Regions from separate parts of the Homo sapiens genome. Here all the other regions are linked to region 3. Evidence: fine-mapped expression QTL. A gene starts in region 3. Each other region holds a variant in brackets. All regions are shown on one strand. Distances are between the middles of the regions.

Region 1 (5,151 bases), 21 kb before region 3:
CTTGAGCCCAGAGTTCAAAACCAGCCTGGGCAACATAGGGAGACCGCATCTCTACAAAAAATAAAATATTAGCCAGTGCTGGGCACAGTGACTCATGCCTGTAATCCCAGCACTTTGAGAGACTGAGGCAGGTAGATTACTTGAGGTCAGGTGTTCGAGACAAGCCTGGCCAATGTGACGAAACCCTGTCTCTACTAAAAATACAAAAATTAGCCGGGCGTGGTGGCGCAGTTTGTAGTCCCAGCTACTTGGGAGGCTGAGGCATGAGAACTTCTTGAATCCAGGAGGCGGAGAATGCTGTGAGCTAAGATCATGCCACTGCACTTCAGCCTGGGAGACAGAGCGAGACGCTGTCTCAAAAAAAAAAAAAAATATATATATATATATATATACACACACACACACACATGCACACACACACACACACACCCAACTTATATATTATATACATTTAAGTATATATAATATATATTTTTATTAGCCAGGCATGGAGGGGATACTGAGGCAGGAGGATTGCTTGAGCCCAGGCGTTCAAGGATGCAGTAAGCTATGATTGTGTCACTGCAATGGGCAACAGAGTGAGACCCTGTCTCAAAAAAATAAAAATAAAAGTAAATAAAACCACAAACATGTATGATTTTACATAGTTTCTTAGGGTTGAGAATGTACAAGCTGGGTTGTTCTGTTTCAGGGCCTCTCATGAGATTACAGGACTATGGTCATCTGAAGGCTTGAAGGGGTTGGAGGATCTTCCATCCAGCTCACACACAAGTGTTGGCAAGGGTCCTCTGTTCCTCACCATGCAGGCCTCTCCAGAGGGCTACTCTGACATGGTAGCTGGCTTCCCCCAGACCCACTGATCCGAGATGGAAGGTGAAGTGCCTTTTGTAACTTAATCTCAGAAGTGACATACCATCCCTTCTGCCCTGTCCTATTAGTTACACAGAGGACCCTGGGACAATGTAGGAGGGAAGTATACCAGCATGAGAATAACAGAAGGTGGGACCATTGGGGGCCTCCTTGGAAAGTACAACCTGCTAAACAGATATGGTTGCACGTATACATCTTCCTTCCCTTCCCTTTCGTTATTTTTTTTGAGACAGAGTCTTTCTCTGTCGCCCAGGCTAGAGTGCAATGGCACAATCTCAGCTCACTGCAACTCCGCCTCCCAGGTTTGAGCAATTCTCCTGCCTCAACCTCCTGAGTAGCTGGGACTATGGCGCACTCCACTACACCCAGCTAATTTTTGTATTTTTAGTAGAGACAGGGTTTTACTATGTTGACCAGGCTGGTCTCGAACTCCTGACCTCAGGTGATCCGCCCGCCTCAGCTTCGCAAAGTGCTGGGATTACAGGTGTGAGCCACCACGCCTGGCCCTTCCCTTCCCCTTTTAAAGTCCAAGTCTGTATTTTGTTCTGCTCCATCCCCACATCCTTGCTTTTTAGTATGCAGCAGGTACTCATTAAGTACTGGGTAGACAGATATTGTACAAGACATGAGTAGTGTTTGCACATAGCCAGCTTCCCTTTGTTCCGCCACATAGAGCACTTCTCAGTCCCCTGCAGTTGGATGGGCTTGTGACTACTAGCCAGTTAAACATGCATGGAAAGACCTGTGTCACTGCCACACTGAGGGAATGAAAGGCGGGGTTATGACTCTCTAGTCTCTTTCCTGCCATGGCATCCCACGAACTACAGATGTCAAATGCTCTGGCAAGTGTAGCTAACACATGAATAGCCTCAGTCTACTTCCGTCCCAAACCTAAGAGGCTGTACAGAATGGAGGCTCTGTCCCCTGGGAAGCAAGCTGCAGGCACATGAAAAGTGTCTGAGTTTTGGGGGAGTTGTTACTGAAGCCTGACCTGACCTATCCATATTACAGATCTACCATCTCTTTTAGCAAACCCGCTAGCCTCAAGTTGCAGATGGGGAAACTGAGGCTCAAAAAGGCCAAAAGACTAACCCAAGGTCATATAGCAAGTACATAGTGGAGGTGAGTTTTGAATTTGAGTCTTCTGTCTACTAGTTGAGGAGGTGGTATGGCATATCGATTAATTCCATGGAAGGGTGAGCCATAAACTTGACCTGAACCCTGAGGAGCAAATCACTAAAATTCTCTAAGCTCAATGATCTCAGTCTGTAAAATTGGGACATAATAATTACCTTCTTCAAAGGTTACCTTTGAAGATTATGAGGATTAAATGAGATGAACTCATAAATCATAAGCCCTTAACAAATGCTATATATTCTCATTATCATTTCCCTTATACTTCACCCTCTGAGCTAACTATATAGAGTTTCAGCC[C/T]TTTTCCTTCACCCTTCCCCTGATTCAGATCCTTTACAAGGCATTTTCCAATCAATTCCAAAGCCCCAAGACTATTTCCTCCATGGTTTCTCTTGGTAAAGATGTCAAGGTACTTTTTTTTTCCTACTCAAACATAACACATTTTCCATCTTTCTATTATTAGCCTTTCTCTGCCCAACATGCTTTTTTTGGGCATTTCTCATTAGTCCAGCTAGCCTGGTGACAGGATACAGCACTGTTGACTCAAGTTGGTAGACACAAAGCAAACCAGCTTCTCGCTCTGCCACCATTTGAGAACTTACAGCAAGAGAAAACTCTCAAGGAAAACAAAGCTTGATCTGCAAAGGTCACGTGTGTACCTACGCTGGGGGAAGAGACCTTTCCAAAGCTCTTTTTGTGTACTGGAAAAAACTCATTACCTGTTCTTCAGTATGGGAATAGTCAAATAAATGAGGACCCAGCCCCATAATAAAATACTATGTAGTCACCAAAAAGAATGAGGTAAGAATGTAGGAGTACTGACTGGGAACAATGCTGATGATACAGTTTTCAATGCAAAAAGCAAGTTCCACAACAATATACAGAGTACAATCCTGATTTTCGTAAAAGAAATACAATTTAATCAGGATACATACATATGTATGTAATTATACATATGCATGTCTATATGTACAAACATAGACAGACAACTATATATGGGGAAAAAAAAACCGGCCAGGCGCAGTGGCTCATGCCTGTAATCCCAGCACTTTGGGAGGGACAGGCAGGTGGATCATTTGAGGTCAGAAGTTCAAGACCAGCCTAGGCAACATGGTGAGACCCCCATCTCTACTAAAAATACAAAAATTAGCCAGGCATGGGGGCACAGTCCTGTAATCACAGCTACTCGGGAGGCTGAGGCAGAAGAATCGCTTGAACCCAGGAAACAGAGGGTGCAATGAGCTAAGATCGCACCACTGGACTCCAGCCTGGGCAACAGAGTGAGCCGCTGTCTCAAAAAAAAAAAAAAAAAAAAAAAAGAAAGGAAGAAAGAAAGAAAGAAAAGGAAAAAACGGGGGCTGGGCATGGTGGCACATGCCTATAACCCCAGCACTTTGGGAGGCCAAGGTGGGTAGACTGCTTAAGCCAACCTGGGCAACACGGCAAAATTCTGTCTCTATTAAAAAATACACAAAAATTAGCCAGACATGGTGGTGCATGCCTGTAGTCCCAGCTACTTGGGAGGCTAAGGCGGGAGGATCACTTGAGCCTGGAAGGTTGAGGCTGCAGTGAGCCGAGATTGCACCACTGTACTCTACCCTTGGCAATAGAGTGAGACCCTCGTCTCATTCAATCCTCACCATGTCTCTATGAGGTAGGTATAATTATCCCTGTTTTACCAAAAACTGAGGCTCAGAGTCAAGTGTTCAAAGTCACACAATTGAACATGCAGCAAAATACATTAGTTAACAGAATATGCAGTTCCTAAAATGTAGTCTGTTTGTACTTAGTAAACACTGTGCCATGATTTCTGCAAATTCACCTGCTTATCAAACTCGGGCTTCAGAGAGTCTTCAGTGAAGATGTGGAATTGGATCTTCCTGTGGCTAAAAAGCACAGCTGATTTGAGCATGACCAGCGTCTCCTCCAGCCGATTGCCACAGGCCACCACAGCCAGGTGGATCCAGAGCTCGGGTGGCAGCACAGCTTGGAAACTCCTGGGTTCTCCAGGCCTCCTAGAAAGAGGGAAAACAAGTGAAAGCTATTACTAAACTCAAAAAAGTAAAAACAACAAAAAACCGGCGAGTGAATGGTTAGAACATTTCAAAACATGATCAGGCACAATCTGTTATATTTTATAAAGTGATAAGCATTTTGACAATTCTTCCTGCTTAGAGAAAAATACCATTTATTCCCATATTTATCCTGGCAATAGCAGGATGAGTCACTGTTTGGACTGCTATAGGTGTCTGAGGCTTTTTCTGCCAGCACTCAGCTGTCTGGTGCCTGCTGGCTGCCTACTGGCCCATGTTTGGAAATAGTATTGCTAAACTTCGACAGCTGACACAAGGGCTGTGGAGCTCCCACTCGCACAGGCCGTGGAAATTAGATTTGAATGCAACTTGAACAAGAGGAGTGTGGGTTGTGGCTTTCCCATGTGAAACGAGCAACATGATATTCCCATCATCTGGATGTTTTTAGGTTGGGGTGGAATGCATGACCACTGGACCAAAGCAAGTCATGCAAGTCTGGGAGGTGAGCAAAGAAAACAACATATGCGCCCTGACGACATCTCAGGAGAGTCTTGAAGAAACAGGTGTTAATCCTGACCGTCTCGCCAATACTGGTGAGGTGGTGGGTATGAAATTCATCTTCCAGTATGAAATTCACATTAATGAGAAACAGGCAGGAGAGGGGGTAGGTTAATCTGAAAATGATCAAGGTATCAAATATTGAGTCAACAGCTGACAGAGGGATAGGGTCCAAGGGTCCAGAATCATCATCCAGCTATTTCCTAGTAATAAAAGATTTGTTCCAGACGAAGGGATGCAGCCAAGCCTCAAACACACCACTGAGAAACATTTGCAGTCAAGTTGGAAGAAGTTGGCCTGGAAAAGGTGCCCTGAGACAAATGAAACTAATTTACTTGCACAAAAGATTTGGAGACCAGGGGAACTTGGATGTCAAATGCTACCTTCCTTCCAAAAACTTCGAGTTCAATCAGCTTGCTGCTCCATTATTCACTGCATGGTTGAATAATGGCAGTCTTGCTCCAGATTTCTTTCACCAGGAGGAAAGTTGAAGATGTGGGTGGAGCATTTTGGAAAGGCTCCCAGTTTGATTACTTATGAGCATGCTTAGTAGAAG
Region 2 (5,151 bases), 43 kb before region 3:
AGCACTTTGGGAGACTGAGGCGGGCAGACTGCTTGAGCCCAGGAGTTTAAGACCAGCCAGGGCAATACAGCAAGACCCTATCTCTACAAAAAAATACAAAAATTAGCCTGGCATGGTGGTGCACACCTGCAGTCCCAGCTACTCCAGAGGCTGAGATGGAAGGATCACTTGAACCCAGGAGGAGGTTGAGGCTTCAATAAGCTGTGATCACACCACTACACTCTAGCCTGGGTGACAGAGCAAGACCCTGTCTCAAAAAAAAAAAAAAAAAAAGAATAAAATTAAAATTAACTATCAATTTTTGTATAGTTTTAGGAAAGAATGAATACAAATACAAATAATTTCCTTGCCATCTTTAATCCAACACAAGTCCAGCTGGCTAAGCTCCTCTTTCATTCTGAGAACTCCCAACATCCTTTCCTTTCTTTATTATTATTATTCTTAATTTTTGAGACAGGATCTCACTCTGTTGCCCGAGTTGGAGTGCAGTGGGGCCATCACAGCTCATCTGCAGCCTCGATCTCCTGGAGCTCAAGTGATCCTCCAAGCTCGGCCCCCCCAGGCTGCTGGGACTACAGACCTGTGCCACCACACCCGGTTAATTCTTTGTAGAGACAGGGTGTCACTTTGTTGCTCAGGCTGGTCTTGAACTCCTGGGCTCAAGTCATCTTCCCATCTTGGCCTTCTAAAGTGTTGGGATTACAGGTACGAGCCACTGTGTCCAGCCCCAACATCCTTTCAATCAAATTCTCTTCTGATTAACTCAGCCTGAATCAATTATGATCACGTTCATTTATTTTTCTTTTTTCTTAATATTTGTACTTACTATAGCCAACATCATATATGATCACTTTCAACCAAAGAACTACGTTACAGTAAGTAATCAACATATATTATTGTGATTCTTACACTAGGCTTCGTAAGAAATATAATGACTCTTCAGTTGTAGAACTATTGCATCTATTAGCATTTACTAGCAACTACTGCAACTATTAGCATCTAATACTATGATGCTAATTATGCTGGAGTCAAAAAGACAATTCCCTACAATGTGACTGATGTTTTAATAGGAGCGTTACCTGCTGGGACATGTTTACAATTGTTCATGGTTAGTTATGGCTTGGCCGACTGGGTCAAAAAAAATGATGTTGCTATTAATCAAGATAAAGTCCTTTTCGGAAAGAGAATTAACTGTCTCAGTAGTTTCATGCTACATATCAGTCCTAAAAAAATAGGTATAATAATAAAAATAGTATCTAACACTTTCTATGTGCCAGGCATTGTTTCCAAGGGTGTTAAATGTATTCACTAATTTGAATTTTCACAACACTATGAGATAGGCAATATTATTATTCTCTTTTTACAGATGAGTAAATGGAGGCAAGGAAAGTTGAAATTATTTCTTCTGGTTACAAAGTGGTAAGTGGTAGAAACAAGATTTAAATGTATTTGGGCTGCTTCCAGAGCCTGGGGTCTTAACAACTATACCATACTGTCTCTATATAATAATATCTCAAATTAATTTGTCTCCATTAAATGCTTCCTAACACTGTGGCTATTACATTTTCTAAAGGCCACACTTTGTATATTATCTCATATTCCTCATCTTAACAAAGTAACTGGACCTCTCTGAAGGCCTGAGAAGAAATGTTATATAACTATTCATTGTTAAGCCAAACAGATGTTTATTGTTTGCCCTCCCCTTCATATCTTTCTCCATCTCCTGACAAGAGCCACTCTCTTGTGGTAAAACCCAATCCATGTGGCTTAAATGTTGTTGGCCCCTGTGGCCCATGGAGGAGAATGTGATTCAAGTCAAGCCAATCTGAGTATCCTGTCTTCCTGGACATAATGATTGGTTCAGAAATAAGCATGACTTTGGATTAAACAATGGTTTCTTAGATATGACACCAAAAGTACAACAAAAATGGAAATAGATAACTTTGAATTAAACAAAATTAAATACTTTTGTGTTGCCAATGACACTATTAAAGTGGGCCACGTACGGTGGCTCATGTCTGTAATCCCAGCACTTTGGGAGGCTGAGGCAGGTGGATCAACTGAGGTTAGGAGTTTGAGACCAGCCTGGCCAACATGGTGAAACCCCATCTCTACTAAAAATACACACAAAAAATTAGCTGGGCGTGGTGGTGGGCACCTGTAATCACAGCTACTGGGGAGGCTGAGGCAAGAGAATTGCTTGAACCCAGAAGGCGGAGGTTGGTGTGAGCCAAGATCGTGCCATTGCACTCCAGAAAACTCCATCTCAAAAAAAAAAAAAAAGTTAAAAGACAATCCACAGAATTCAAATTTGTCCATTTCATCTAAATTACCTAATTGATTGAAATACAATTATTCATAGTATTGCTTTATAATCCTTTTATTTTGGTAATGTTGGTAGTTATGTTCCCTCTTTCCTTCCTGATTTTAGTAGTTTGAGTCTTCCCTTGTTTTCTAGCTCAGTCTACCTAAAGGTTTGTCAATTTTGTTGATCTTTTCAAAGTACCAATTTTTAGTTTTGGTGTTACTCCTCTACTGTTTTTTCTCTTCTCTGTATCATTAATTTTCAGTTGAATCTTTATTATTTCCATCCTTCTGCTTGCTTGGATTTAGTTTGCTCTTCTGAGGTGCTGTAAAGTGGAAGGTTAGGCTATTGACTTGAGGCCTTTCCTCATTTGTACTGCTGAAGTTTATAAATTTCCCTCTAAACCCTGTGTTAGGTGTCTGCCATAAGTACTGGTATGTTGTATCTTCATTTTCATTGTAGTTTCCCTTGTAGTTTCTTCTTAAAGCAATTGGCTATTTAGAAAGAAGTATGTTACTTAGGCCGGGCGC[G/A]GTGGCTCACGCCTGTAATCCTAGCACTTTGAGAGGCCGAGGCAGGTGAATCACGAGGTCAGGAGATCGAGACCATCCTGGCTAACATGGTGAAACCCCGTCTCTACTAAAAATACAAAAAATTAGCCATGTGTGGTGACGGGCACCTGTAGTCCCAGCTACTCGGCAAGCTGAGGCAGGAGAATGGGGGGTGAACCTGGGAGGCGGAGCTTGCAGTGAGCGGAGATGGAGCCACTGCACTCCAGCCTGGGGACAGTGCAAGACTCCGTCTCAAAAAAAAAATAGAAAATAAAATAAAAAAATAAAGAAGTATGTTACTTAATTTCTACATTTTTGTTAACTTCCCAAATTTCTTTCTGTTATTGACTTCTAATTCCATTCCACTGTGGTCAGAGAACATACATTGTATAACTTCAATCCTTTTATGCTTTTTACAGCTTCTTTTATGGTACAACATATGGTCCATTCTGGAGAAAGTTTCATGTGCACTCACAAGAACGTATTCTACTGGTGTTGGGTGGAGTGTCCTAAAGAAGTCGGTTGGTTCAGCTGGTTTATGGTGTTGTTCTTCTATTTCCGTGTTGACATTCAGCCTAGTTGTTCAATCCATTATTGAAAGTAAGGCAGCTGGGTGCAGTGGCTCATGCCTGTAATCCTAGCACTTTGGGAGGCTGAGGCAGGTGGATCACTTGAGCCCAGGGGTTCGAGACCAGCCTGGGCAACAGGGTGAAACCCCATCTCTACAAAAAGTATGAAAATTAGTTGGGCTTGGTGGTGCACACCTGTAGTCCCAGCTACTTGAGAGGCTGAGGTGGGAGGATCACCTGAGCCTGGGAGGTCAAGGCTGCAGTGAGCCATGATCATACCACTGTACTCTAGCCTGGGTGACAGAGTGAAACCCTGTGTCAAAAAAAAAAAAAAAAAAAGAAGAAGAAGAAAAAGAAAAAGAAAAGAGGGGCACTCATATCTCCTACTACTGTTGATGAATTGCTTATTTATATCTTTTTTTTTTTTTTGAGACAGGGTTTCACTCCTGTTACCCAGGCTGGAGTGCAGTGGCATGATCTTGGCTCACTGCAATCTCCGCCTCCTGGGCTCAAGCAATTCTCCTGCCTCAGTCTCCTGAGTAGCTGGGACTATAGGCACATGCCACCACGCCCAGCTAATTTTTGTGTTTTTAGGAGAGATGAGGTTTCACCATGTTGGCCAGGCTGGTCTTGAACTCCTGAGCTCAAGTGATCTGCCCGCATCAGCTAGAATTACAGGCATGAACACCTCCTATAGAGAGCACACAGTTCGACTGTATTCTTTATCAACTATAACTGCAACTCTGTTTTTTTTTTTGTTTTTTTGAGATGGAGTTTCGCCCTTTTTGCCCAAGCTAGAGTGCAATGACGCAATCTCAACTCACTGCACCCTCTGCTTCCTGGGTTCAAGTGATTCTCCTGGCTCACCCTCTCGAGTAGCTGGGATTACAGGTGCACGCCACCACGCCCAGCTAATTTTGTATTTTTAGTAGAGACACCATTTCACCATGTTGGCCAGGCTGGTTTTGAACTTCTGACCTCAGGTGATCCACCTGCCTTGGCCTCCCAAAGTGCTGGGATTACAGGCATGAGCCACTGCAGCGGGCCTGCAACTCTGTGTTTTTATTTGATTGTCGAATCCATTCACATTCAATGCTATTATTTATATAGTCGAATTTATGTCTGCCATTTTACTATTTGTTTTCTATATGTCTAATATTTTTGTTGTTCCTCTATTCTTTCTTTTCTGCTTTATTTTGCATTAAGTGAATATTTTCTTTTTTCTGGATGTTGTGGTGCAACTTATAGAAAAAGTAAAGGAAACCCCAACATGCATGCACTGCCTTGGTGACCAGGGAAGTCACCCCATGGCTATGGGGAAATTAGCCTGAGGCTTAGCTTTCGTTATCACTGTCTCCCAGCGTGTGCTTGTCAAAGAGATATTCTGCCGAGCCAGATTCGGGTGCTCCCATCTTGCACAAGTTGGTCACGTGGCCACCCAATTCTTTGATGGCTTTCACCTGCTCATTCAGGTAATGTGTCTCAATGAAGTCACACAAATGGGGGTCATTTTTGTCACTGGCCAGTTTGTGCAGTTCCAGTAGTGACTGACTCATATTTTTTTTTCCCCAAATGTAATGCACACTCCATCGCATTCAGCCCGCTCTCCCAGTCGTCACAGTCTGGTTTCTTGATATCCTGAAGGAAGATTCGGCCACCTCGTTGGTTCTGCAACGTCATCAGTTTCTCGGCATGTTCCCTCTCCTCATGAGATTGGTGAAGAAAGTAT
Region 3 (5,151 bases):
AGGTAGCAAGAGAAACAATAAATAAGTCCCAGAAAATGTCAACTGTTTATGCATTTGAGCCTGAGACTTCCTGTGGCTTTTGTTTTTTACTCCTTCCCCAGTTTTAAAATTTTGTTCTGTATTCCTATGGTGTTGGCCATAATTTCCACGATAATCTAAGAGATATGTTCAAAAGAAAAATGGCTTCAAGGGTACTGTTACTCCTGGAAATAGAAACACTCCTTCCCTAAAACATCCATTTGGATTCTGTTCATGATCTCCTCCTAGTCAGAGACACTTTGTTCAGATAGACACAAAAAGATGCTGCGCCACTGTTCTCGACACCTTGAAGAATGAGACAGATCCAAAAATCTACAGTGTTTCTTTAAAAGACATCTCAGTAAAATTACGAATTGCAGGCAAGTCTATGGCCTGACATCAGCATAGCAGGTAAGTGCTCAACCTGAGCCCACACTGCCTGGATCTTTATCCTTCTCTACCAGGTTACCTGTGAACCTTGGACAAACTGCTAACCCTTGTGCAATACTTTCCTCATCTGAAAAGTGGGGATACCATTGGTGCTTACTTTGCAGAGCAGGTTCTCAAACTTTGTTGTGCATGAGAAACAATGGGAGGGACGTGTTAAAACACGGTTGCTGACCCCCCAAAGCTTCTGATTCTGTAGGGTTGGGGTGGGGCCCAGGAATCTGCATTTCTAACAAGTTCCCAGATGATGCCTGTGCCACTGGTCTGAAGTCCACACTTTGAGAACCACTGTCAAAGGGTTATGGTTGGGCCCGGCGCGGTGGCTCACGCCTGTAATCCTAGCACTTTGGGAAAGGCTGAGGCAGATGGATCACTGGGCTCAGGAGTTCCTGGCCAATATGGTGAAACCCCGTCTCTCTACTAAAAATACAAAAATCAGCTGGGCATGGTGGCACACGCCTGTTTGCCAGCTACCTGGCAGGCTGAGGCACAAGAATCACTTGAATCTGGGAGGCCTGAACCCGGGAGGCAGCGGTTGCAGTGAGCAGAGATCGCAGCACGGCACTCCAGCCTGGGCGACAGAGGAAGACTTTGTCACAAAAAAAAAAAAAAAACAAAAAAAAAACCAAAAGAAAAACAGCGGTGGGGGGGAAGGTTATGGTGTGGATTATGTAGTTGTATATGTTAAGTGTTAACTGTGACTATTTGTATGTACTGCGGTTAGCACTGTCCCTGGCAATAGGTTAGCGATGTTAAGGATGACAGTTATTATTATCTTACCAGTTGTCCCATCAAACTTAGCAATCATATTAAACTTGCAGTTAAACCCTAATTAATCTCTTACAAGAAACTCCAGTATAGAAGAGGGGAAATCCTATTAATTTCCTAACAAAGATATCCTTAAAGACTGTATACATCCAGAAAGGGCTGTAAAGTGTTATAAGTACTTTAAAGCGACAGATTGTTGGGGTTTTTTCCCCCTAAAACTTGTCAGTACCCATTTGTACTGAGACAGAAGGGAAACAAAGGCTGACACAGCTACTTCTTGAGGTTTCGTGTCTTTTAGTTACAGTAAAGGCACCAAAGAGATTTAGTCATTATGGTCAAAAATAATTTTTCAACTCCTTTCAGGTTGAAATTAAGGAGCCCAGCAAACAAGGACGTTGCAATGGCAGTTAGAAACAACAGTTTTGAAAGGGCAGATGAAACAGACTCGCTACAAGACAAGGGGATTGTTGAAAAGCCCTCCACAACAAAGGAAATGAACTCAAATCCCTAACCTGCGGGGCGTTCCAGCAACCCTGAGGCCAAAAATAAAGCTCTCTGATGAAAAGCCTCCGCGTGTTAGGCTTTGTGTAGGGAAAGAGAGTATCAAACAGAAGGTCGAAGGTTAAGTTGTTTTTCTTGTAGGAGGACCCTTTGACCACACTCGAGCCTGAAACAGAATGAGGATCTGGAAACCCCCACTCTGTCTTTTCTGTGCCACGCATCAGTCCTTTCAAGGAGAAAACTTCTTTTTAATAAACTTAGGTCAAGTGTCCCTTCTGTTCTAAGCATGGGGGTACTCGAGGTTAAATGAGAGGCTGCCAGTCCTTGGTAAACATCTAACTTTTCCAACTCAACCATATCTAAGGTTTCGGTAAAATTCTCCAGTGAAACATGAGAATTAGATAAAACATTCTTGCACCGTGATGGCTTTTGACAAATTAAACAAAGGGTGCATGTTTGCAAGAGTGCAAAAATACGCCTTGCCTTGACAGTTAAAAAATGTAATGTACGAAACCACTTTCCTTGACACTTCAAAAAATGTACGTGATTATCAACACCGAGCTGTTAGGGGGACTCCACCAAGGTGGGTCTTCTTTTCTATCGGGTTAAGAAACAGAAGTGGGCAGCCCGTGGGTGAAACTTGGAAATCTGTCTCTCCAGCGCAAAGCCTCCCTTGGACTTGGCACGGGTGTAGGGAGCGAGACACGGGTCCGCAGATGGGATTCTGGGGTTGCCACGACTCACCTCGCCAACTTCTCCAGTCTCGCAGCGCCCCGGCGGCCCGCTCGGGGGCGCGGACGCGGGGGCCGGCGCCTCCGAACTCCCGGGCTGGCCCCGGGGAGGGCGCCCGGCCCCGGCCAGCGCGCGGGGACAGGCGCGGGGTGGCGCTGCGGGGCGGACGCGGGGCGCGCGGGCAGCGCTGGGGGCTCAGCGCGGCCAGCGCGCAGGGACAGCAGCGCCAGCAGCAGCGCGGCCAGCGCGAGCAAGAGCAGCGCCGCCGCCTTGCTGCGGAGCTTCATGGTGCGGCGCGGCGGCGGCGGCGGCCCCCAGGCGGCTCGGCCCCTCTGCGCATCGCGGCGGCGGCAGGATGAGTGCAGCAGCGCGCGGCGGTCGCCTCCTCCGCCCGCCCGCCGGGGACTGGGGTCGTGGCGGCCGGCGGGCGGCCGGCGGCGGCGGCGACGGCGAAGGAGGAGGAGAGAGAGGAGAGGAGGGGGAGGCGGTGAGAGCTGGGTTACAGGAGGAGCAGCCTGCGCCTACCGTACTGTGTGGAGTAGCCGCCCCTCCGCCCGCCCGCAGCCAGGCTCTCGGGCTTCTGGTAGCTCAGACTCAAAACCACTTCATTCATTCATTCGTTCGTTCGTTCGTTTACTTCCCCATTCACTCACACACCCATGCCATCCACTGTTCCCGCTGATTCTCTCATACCATGATTCACTTATTTGTTGATGTATTCCATGTGCTTCCTCCTTATTTATTTTATCCATCTATCCACACATTTGTGCACTTATCCACACATCCTTTCAGGCAGGAACATCTCTGTCCTGTTTGCCCAGTGCAGGGATCTGCGGGTGGTGGTGCCCAATAAATATCTGTTGAATAAACCCCTATTGCCGCCTCTGTCTTGCCACCTCCCTTTTTCCTGGAGGAGGACATATTCAACAAGGACACATGCAAAATAAGGCAAAGCGAGTAAAAGTAACACGTGATTAGTAGTTGGGGTTTCAGACTCAAAACACCAAAGTAGAACTTGGGACAGCTAGACTGGACCGAACCGATCCATGTAGTCTGAAGAAATTAGAGAATGAATTTCAAAGTTTGGATTTGAAATCTGACACTGTGCTTAACTGGCTTGGTGATCCTGAGGAAGCTGCACAACTTTCTTAAGCCTTAACTTCCTTACGTGCAAAATGGGAATGACAATACTGCTCACTACAGAGGCGTTTTGTGAGCATTAAATTAAATAATGCCTTCAAAGAAACTAGCACAGTGCCTGGCTCACAGTCGGTGCCCAATAAAAGTTCTGTAATGATTAGTTCAATAAAACATAGCTTATAATATACACATAAACACACATTTTATTTTCTTTCTGGCACAGATTTGAGATAGAGTAATAATTTCACAACACAATGTAAGAATGGCTTCTTTGGAGACTTTAACAGCTGCAATCGCCAGATGAAGGTCGTAATTTCCAGACGATTCTTCCAGGGGATCCCCAGTTACAAATCTGAAACATTAGGACACATCCTCTTATGACTCACGGTGAACTGACAGCCAGGACTCCATTAACTCTCTTTTCAGCACACCACAGAACAAAGAACACTAGTTAAGTTATAACAACGTCCCTGAGTTTTTCAGTTTTTTTTTTTTTTTTTTTTTTGGATCACTCTGTAGCCCAGGCAGGAGTGCAATGGTGCAATCTTAACTCACCGCAGCCTCCGCCTCCCGGGTTCAAGCCATTCTCCTGCCTCAGCCTCCCAAGTAGCTGGGATTACAGGCTGCGCCACCACACCCGGCTGATTTTTGTATATTTAGTAGAGACGGGGTTTCACCACGTTGGCCAGGCTGGTCTTGAACACCTGACCTCAAGTGATCCGCCCGTCTCGTTCTTCCAAAGTGCTGGGATTACAGGCATGAGCCACCGCGCCCAGCCCGTCCCTGAGTTTCTACAAGATTCCATGTTGCTTTATAAATAATCTAAAATTTAGTTATATTCTGAATTATTCTCATATTAGCATTTTATTTTAATTCCTTGAGAACCCATTGTATTAAAAGTTCTAGAGATGAGAATATTTAGTAATTTGGAAGCTCTTGCCAAGCAGACATCTAGGAAATGGCAGGGTGCAAGTTCAGTGTGGGGGACATGTTGTAGGTGAGTAAGCGCAAAGAATCCATTAGTTCTCAAAGATGAGGGAGAAGGTTCCATCCTACCAGGAAGCATCTGGAATTGTGGGAAGGCTGACAGGTTCTACTAGCATATGCAAAACCTCCTGCAATGCTCAGGACATACCAACAACGAAAACTATCCTGGCCCAATGTGGGACCCTGTTGAGAAACACTAGGCCAGGCTAAGGCATGATGTTTAGATCTTTCAGGTTTAGAAATGGCCACCACTCTGTTGACATGTGGCCCAGAGAAGCAGGCATTCCCAACTCTGTCTTGCCCCCTCCCTTCTACCTCTAGGAGGACAGATGCAACAAGGATAAACAAAGGCAGAGTGAGTCAAAGTAACACTTGATTAGTAGCCAGGGTTTTAGCCTCAAACACCAAAGAATCATGGACCAAAGAGAGGACTCAGTTTTCTTGAACCTCACTGAAGCCAAAAAAAAAAGCCTAATCTGCCTCCTTCCACTGAGTCCAAACTCAACTTTTGGATTTGTTTGGATTGCTCTGATTGGTGGAAAACTACATCCTCTAATT
Region 4 (5,128 bases), 86 kb before region 3:
TCAGAAGGAAAGTATTACTCTAAAATTTTAGATTTAAATTTGTTACTACTATAATAATGCTGCATACCAAAACTGATTGACATCTAAACATTTCTGTGTAGTGCTGAGATTTTCATATCTATTTTTTTTTCAGGGTAAGACTGACTTTTTTTTGCTAATATTGCGCCCATGATATCTTATTGGATTCTAATATATATAAGGATATCATATTTACATCAACAAGATAATATTTTTCTTTTTATACTTCCAGATCATTGTCTCTATATAACAAAAAGTATTTAATATTTTAATTTTCAAAAATGTCTCTGTAAATAAGATACATCTTACACAGACTGTATGTCTTACAGAATAGCAATTATATTCAATATGTTTATTTCTTTGTGTTACAATTTCCTTGTTTGCCTTATAGAGATGATTCAGGACCCTACCAAATCCACTAGGCTGTTGCAAATATCAAGATCATCTATGCAATAGTCATTTGAGAAAAATAAAGCATTATGCAAAATATTGCTATGCTGATACCAACTATATGAGCAACTAGGGATTAAGCCAGATCCCCGTGGGGAACAGAATATTCAACTTCCTCCTTGCAGTGAGGTGATAAAACCTGTATGGACCAGCTAGGTAACCCTAGGGGGAAAGAAATTGTTTAAAGAGACCTTTCTAAGGCTGGTAGGAAGTTGAATTTTCTTACCAATAGAAGCAGCTGAACTATTTGTTTTTTACACATTAAATTTGAAGTTGGTCTCTGATTTCCACCCATTGCCCAAGAGTTTAAGAAAGAGAGATGACCACAGCTACTGATGATTAACAGATCAAATGTTTTTGTCTGTGGTAAACACAAACATTCCTGAATTTCCTCTCAGAAGCTATTGTTGCATAGAAATGTATTATGATTTAGTCCTCCACAAATCAAAGTAATTTTTTTCTTTAGAAATACTCCCAGATTGGCTGAGTGCAGTGGCTCACACTTGTAATCCCAGCACTTTGGGAGGCTGAGGCAGGCAGATCACTTGAGGTCTGGAGATCAAGACCAGCCTGGCCAACATGGTAAAACCGTGTCTCTACTAAAAATACAAAAATTAGCCGGGTGTGGTGGCACACACTTGTAATCCCAGCTACTGGGGAGGCTGAGGCATGAGAATCACTTGAACCCAGGAGGTGGAAGCTGCAGTGAGCCGAGATCCTGCCACTGCATTCTAGCCTGGGCTACAGAGTGAGATTCCGTCTCAAAAAAAAAAAAAAAAAAAAAAAGAAAGAAAGAAAAAGAAGAAATACCCCCAGATACATGCTTCATCCTTTAACACTACCCAAGTATCTGAATGATTCTCTCAGATGTATTTTAAATAAAATTCTGTACACATAATCATCTCATCTAATATTTTAGTCTCCCACATAAAAATCTCAGCAAAAAGGCCAGCTTTTACTGAGATTACCTGTTTTAGATGTGTGTTAGAGTGGAAAATGCAAAAGTAGAGAAAAAAGGTTGTAAGGAACTGCTTTAAAATGGAAACAATCTTTTCCACTGGTCAATAGGATTATGGCTAATCTAATCTTGATGTTGAGCCCTTGACCCATATGCTCTACAAGTGTGTCTCTCTGTTTCAAAAGTGTGTATTACTTTTATAACACGGGTGTGGGGGAGTCAGTTGCATAGAAAGAGTCTCAGGAATGCTAGATCAATATAACACCTCAGGTGCCACTGAAATGGTCTCAGACGTTTAGGAATTAGAAGGCTCACAAAAGCTATTTTCACAGCTAGCTCAACCTGCTTAAACAATGTTAAATGAGTAATAGTCTTTTTTTTTTTTCCTTAGAGATAAATAGCATTTTAGAAAAAAAAATAAGGAAAAGCATATTCCCTTTTGGGGGCAACTGATTTGGCAAAATTTAACGAGGTTTTTAAAACTCAACAGTCATGGAGCACCATTAAATATTCACACAAAAAGACCCAGGCAGCTTAGAGATTAGTATTTCCTTG[G/T]TCACAAGACACCTAATTGACTTGCAACAAGACAAAATATTCAGTGCATCTGGTTGGGGCCAACATGGATGATGACGTGTTTCTCATAAGCCCTTTTCATTGTTTTCTCAATTTGCTTCAGAAAAACTTGCGGGATTCGTCCACATAAAGTGTGCACAGTCTCCAAAAACTTCAGCTGAAGGGGGTAATACATGGATTGAAAGAGATTGTCTTGAAAGGGAAACTGAAAGATGACAAAAAAAAAGTTTATTTAGTAACGGAAATGCCATTTTAAATGCAGATCATTTTTACTAAGAAATGACACAGGAATTACGATAAGCCCACAGGCACAGGTTTGGACAAGTGAAAAGACCTTTGAGGATCTAACTTAAAATCCTGTCTCAGCTGTGCAACCCCAGGTAATCATTTAAACTCTCCGAACCTCAGTTTCTTTACCTCTTTAAAAAGAAAAAGGCTAGGCATGGTGGCTTACACCTGTAACCCCAGCACTTTGAGAGGCCGAGGTGGGAGGACCACTTGAGCCCAGGAGTTTGAGACCAGCCTGAGCAACATGGCAAGACCCCATCTCATTAAAAAAGAATAGTAATAAAATTAAAAAAAAATTTGGGTCCTTAAGGGTCTTACAATCTAAAAATGATGCATGTCTCTAAGGACAGGAAAGTCCATATATCATAGCATGTTTACGCTGAGTAGAAGGAAGGCTCAAGATACTCACTTGAAATCTACTACAACAAAACAATGAATTCTTCATCTTTTTTGACCTTAATGAAGAAACTTTAGGGTATGTCTATGGTAATCTCGTGAAGTTCAGGGTTTAACAATTACTAGTAAAATTTATTGGCAATAAACCAGATTTTAATAATTCAGGTACCAAATATTAGTGGTTGTTTATTTCCCTCTTAATATTGGGCTTTTGAGATCATCACTGCCATTTTTTAAAATTCTTTTGTTTTCTTCATGGAATACGTCTATGAGCAGTATAACCCAAAATAAATCTTTCAGACCACTTAGTTACGCACATGTATCAAAGTTTTATTACAATCTTGTTGAAAGGGAAAAGTCTGGTAGTAGATCAAGTCAAAGATCCACTCTTGGTCAGGACATTTTATATGGAAAGACTAGTGAGAAATGAAAGAAGAATGGTTAAAGATCAGTACACTCTTGCCTAACAGGAGAGGTGGGTGTCTGGTTTCCTAGAACAAATGTTAATCCTTTAAAATTAATCAGAAATACTGCTTACACAGGTTTATCAGAGATGCCAGTTTCTTCTCGGAAGGAGATTATGCATTATGTAATGCAAGAAGGTTCTCTCCCAGACCAGGTTGGTTTGGGATACTTTTTCTTTAATCATGAAATTTAAATCATTGATAAACCCCTTGAAGCCAGTCCTGAATCTGTCCTTTTCACCACTGTAGCTCCAGTAATGGGAACAGGATAGGTCAAAACCTTGGAATCACCCTCAATTCCTCTCTTTCCCCCCACAACCCTCATCCAATTCATCAGCAAGTCCTGTAAACTCTATCTCAACAGCATATCCCAAATATGGCGACTTCTTCCCATTTCCTGCCACCACGCAAGCCCATGCTGGCCCCATTGCTCACCCAGGTGGCTGCGATTAGTCTCACAAATAAATAGCCTTTGTGTTTTCACTCTTGCATCCCTTCCACCACATTACCAAGGTGATATTTCTAAATCATAAATCAGAGCCTATCACTTTCCCGAAGGGGCTTTCCACTGCCATTAGAATGAGATTCCAACTCCTCCCTTGTTCTAAAGGTTCAAGGTGACCTGGAAACTCTCCCCTCTCAGTTCCTCCTCTCTCCTCTTATCTGGCCATTCCTGTCTTTCCAGCACACCAAATTCATTCCTGCCTCCGGGACTTTCCCCTGGTCATTCCTTCTGTTTCACGGGATTTTCCCCAGATTTCCCCTGGGCTGCCTCCATCTGATAAGTCTAGGACTTACAAGCAGCCTCCCTGGTGCCCCTCCCCCAGCTGGTAGAACACTCCTCTCCAGCCCAGGACTTTGGACCCATCAGCCCACTCTTTTTACACCTTTTGAACTCCTTTCACCTTTCACTATCTCAGAGGATTTTTTTTTCTTTTGAGATAGGGTCTTGCTGTGTCACCCAGGCTGGAGTACAGAGGGGCAATCACGGCTCACTGCAGCCTTGAACTCCTGGGCTCAAGTGATCCTCCATCTCAGCCTCACAATTAGCTGGGACCACAGGCACTTGCCATGACGCCCAGTTGTTACTATTTTTTTTCCTAAAGAGGCAAAGTCTTGCTCTGGCTGGAGTACAGTGGGGCCATCCTAGCTCACTGTAGCCTTGGCCTCCTAAGCTCAAGAGATCTTCCCACCCCAGCCCCAACCCCTCCCCACCCAGTAGCTGGGACTACCTGCATGTGCCACCAGGCTAATTTTTTTTTTTTTTTTTTAATTTTTGTAGAGACGCATCTCACTATGTCGCCCAGGCTGAATTTTTCTTTCTTTTTCTCAATCAGTATTGTCTGGCTTCCCCCACCAGAATATATGCTTCTTTTTTTTTTTTTTTTTTTCCGAGACAGAGTCTTGCTCTGTCACCCAGGCTGGACTGCAGTGGTGCGATCTTGGCTCACTGCAACTTCCACTTCCTGGGTTCAAGAAATTCTCCTGCCTCAGCCTCCTGAGTAGCTGGGATTACAGGTGCCTGCCACCACGCCCGGCTGATTTCTGTATTTTTAGTAGAGATGGGGTTTCACCATGTTGGCCAGGCTGGTCTCGAACTCATGACCTCAGGTGATCCACCTGCCTCGGTCTCCCAAAGTGCTGGGAGGTGTGACCCACTGCGCCCAGCTCAGAATATATGCTTCTTAAAGACTAGGGCTTTGTTCATCTTATTACCTTCCAAATTCCTAGAAACTAGAATTGTTCCTGCATAAAATAGATGCTTCATAAGTGACTGTCAAGAGAATTACTGCAAAAATGTCTATATGATAGATGCCTTCTTGTGGGGAGGCTGCACTGCCCTTTCACACAAACACGTACACACAAACACACAGGTTAGGATGTCTATGAGCACCTGAAACAGAGAGAGAAATAGAGAGAAAGAGAGAGAATATTTTCAGAGACAGATGAAGGGAGAAAAAGAAAAAGGTATATAGAGAGA

The links.
Region 1: its variant is fine-mapped to the expression of GXYLT2 in tibial artery (GTEx, PIP 0.92).
Region 2: its variant is fine-mapped to the expression of GXYLT2 in aorta (GTEx, PIP 0.94).
Region 4: its variant is fine-mapped to the expression of GXYLT2 in caudate (GTEx, PIP above 0.99). The same link has a PIP of 0.9 or more in breast, left ventricle, nucleus accumbens, putamen, subcutaneous fat and thyroid.

Annotation. Positions count from the first base shown.
Region 1 is chr3:72,907,235-72,912,385 of GRCh38, reverse strand. GXYLT2 (glucoside xylosyltransferase 2) reads right to left here. Exons shown (of 7, transcript NM_001080393.2): 2 at 3,827-4,019. Among named protein-coding and RNA genes, the nearest start is that of GXYLT2, 22 kb to the right of the region's middle. The variant C/T (reference allele first, on the strand shown) is at 2,305.
Region 2 is chr3:72,929,203-72,934,353 of GRCh38, reverse strand. All of the region lies in intron 3 of GXYLT2 (glucoside xylosyltransferase 2), which reads right to left. It also overlaps the pseudogene FTH1P23. Among named protein-coding and RNA genes, the nearest start is that of GXYLT2, 44 kb to the right of the region's middle. The variant G/A (reference allele first, on the strand shown) is at 2,836.
Region 3 is chr3:72,885,836-72,890,986 of GRCh38, reverse strand. It overlaps GXYLT2 (glucoside xylosyltransferase 2), which reads right to left and starts at 2,941. Exons shown (of 7, transcript NM_001080393.2): 1 at 2,479-2,941. The coding sequence starts at 2,753. RefSeq lists silencers at 2,442-2,571, 2,672-2,901.
Region 4 is chr3:72,972,053-72,977,180 of GRCh38, reverse strand. GXYLT2 (glucoside xylosyltransferase 2) reads right to left here. Exons shown (of 7, transcript NM_001080393.2): 7 at 266-2,204. The coding sequence ends at 2,022. Among named protein-coding and RNA genes, the nearest start is that of PPP4R2, 22 kb to the left of the region's middle. The variant G/T (reference allele first, on the strand shown) is at 1,982.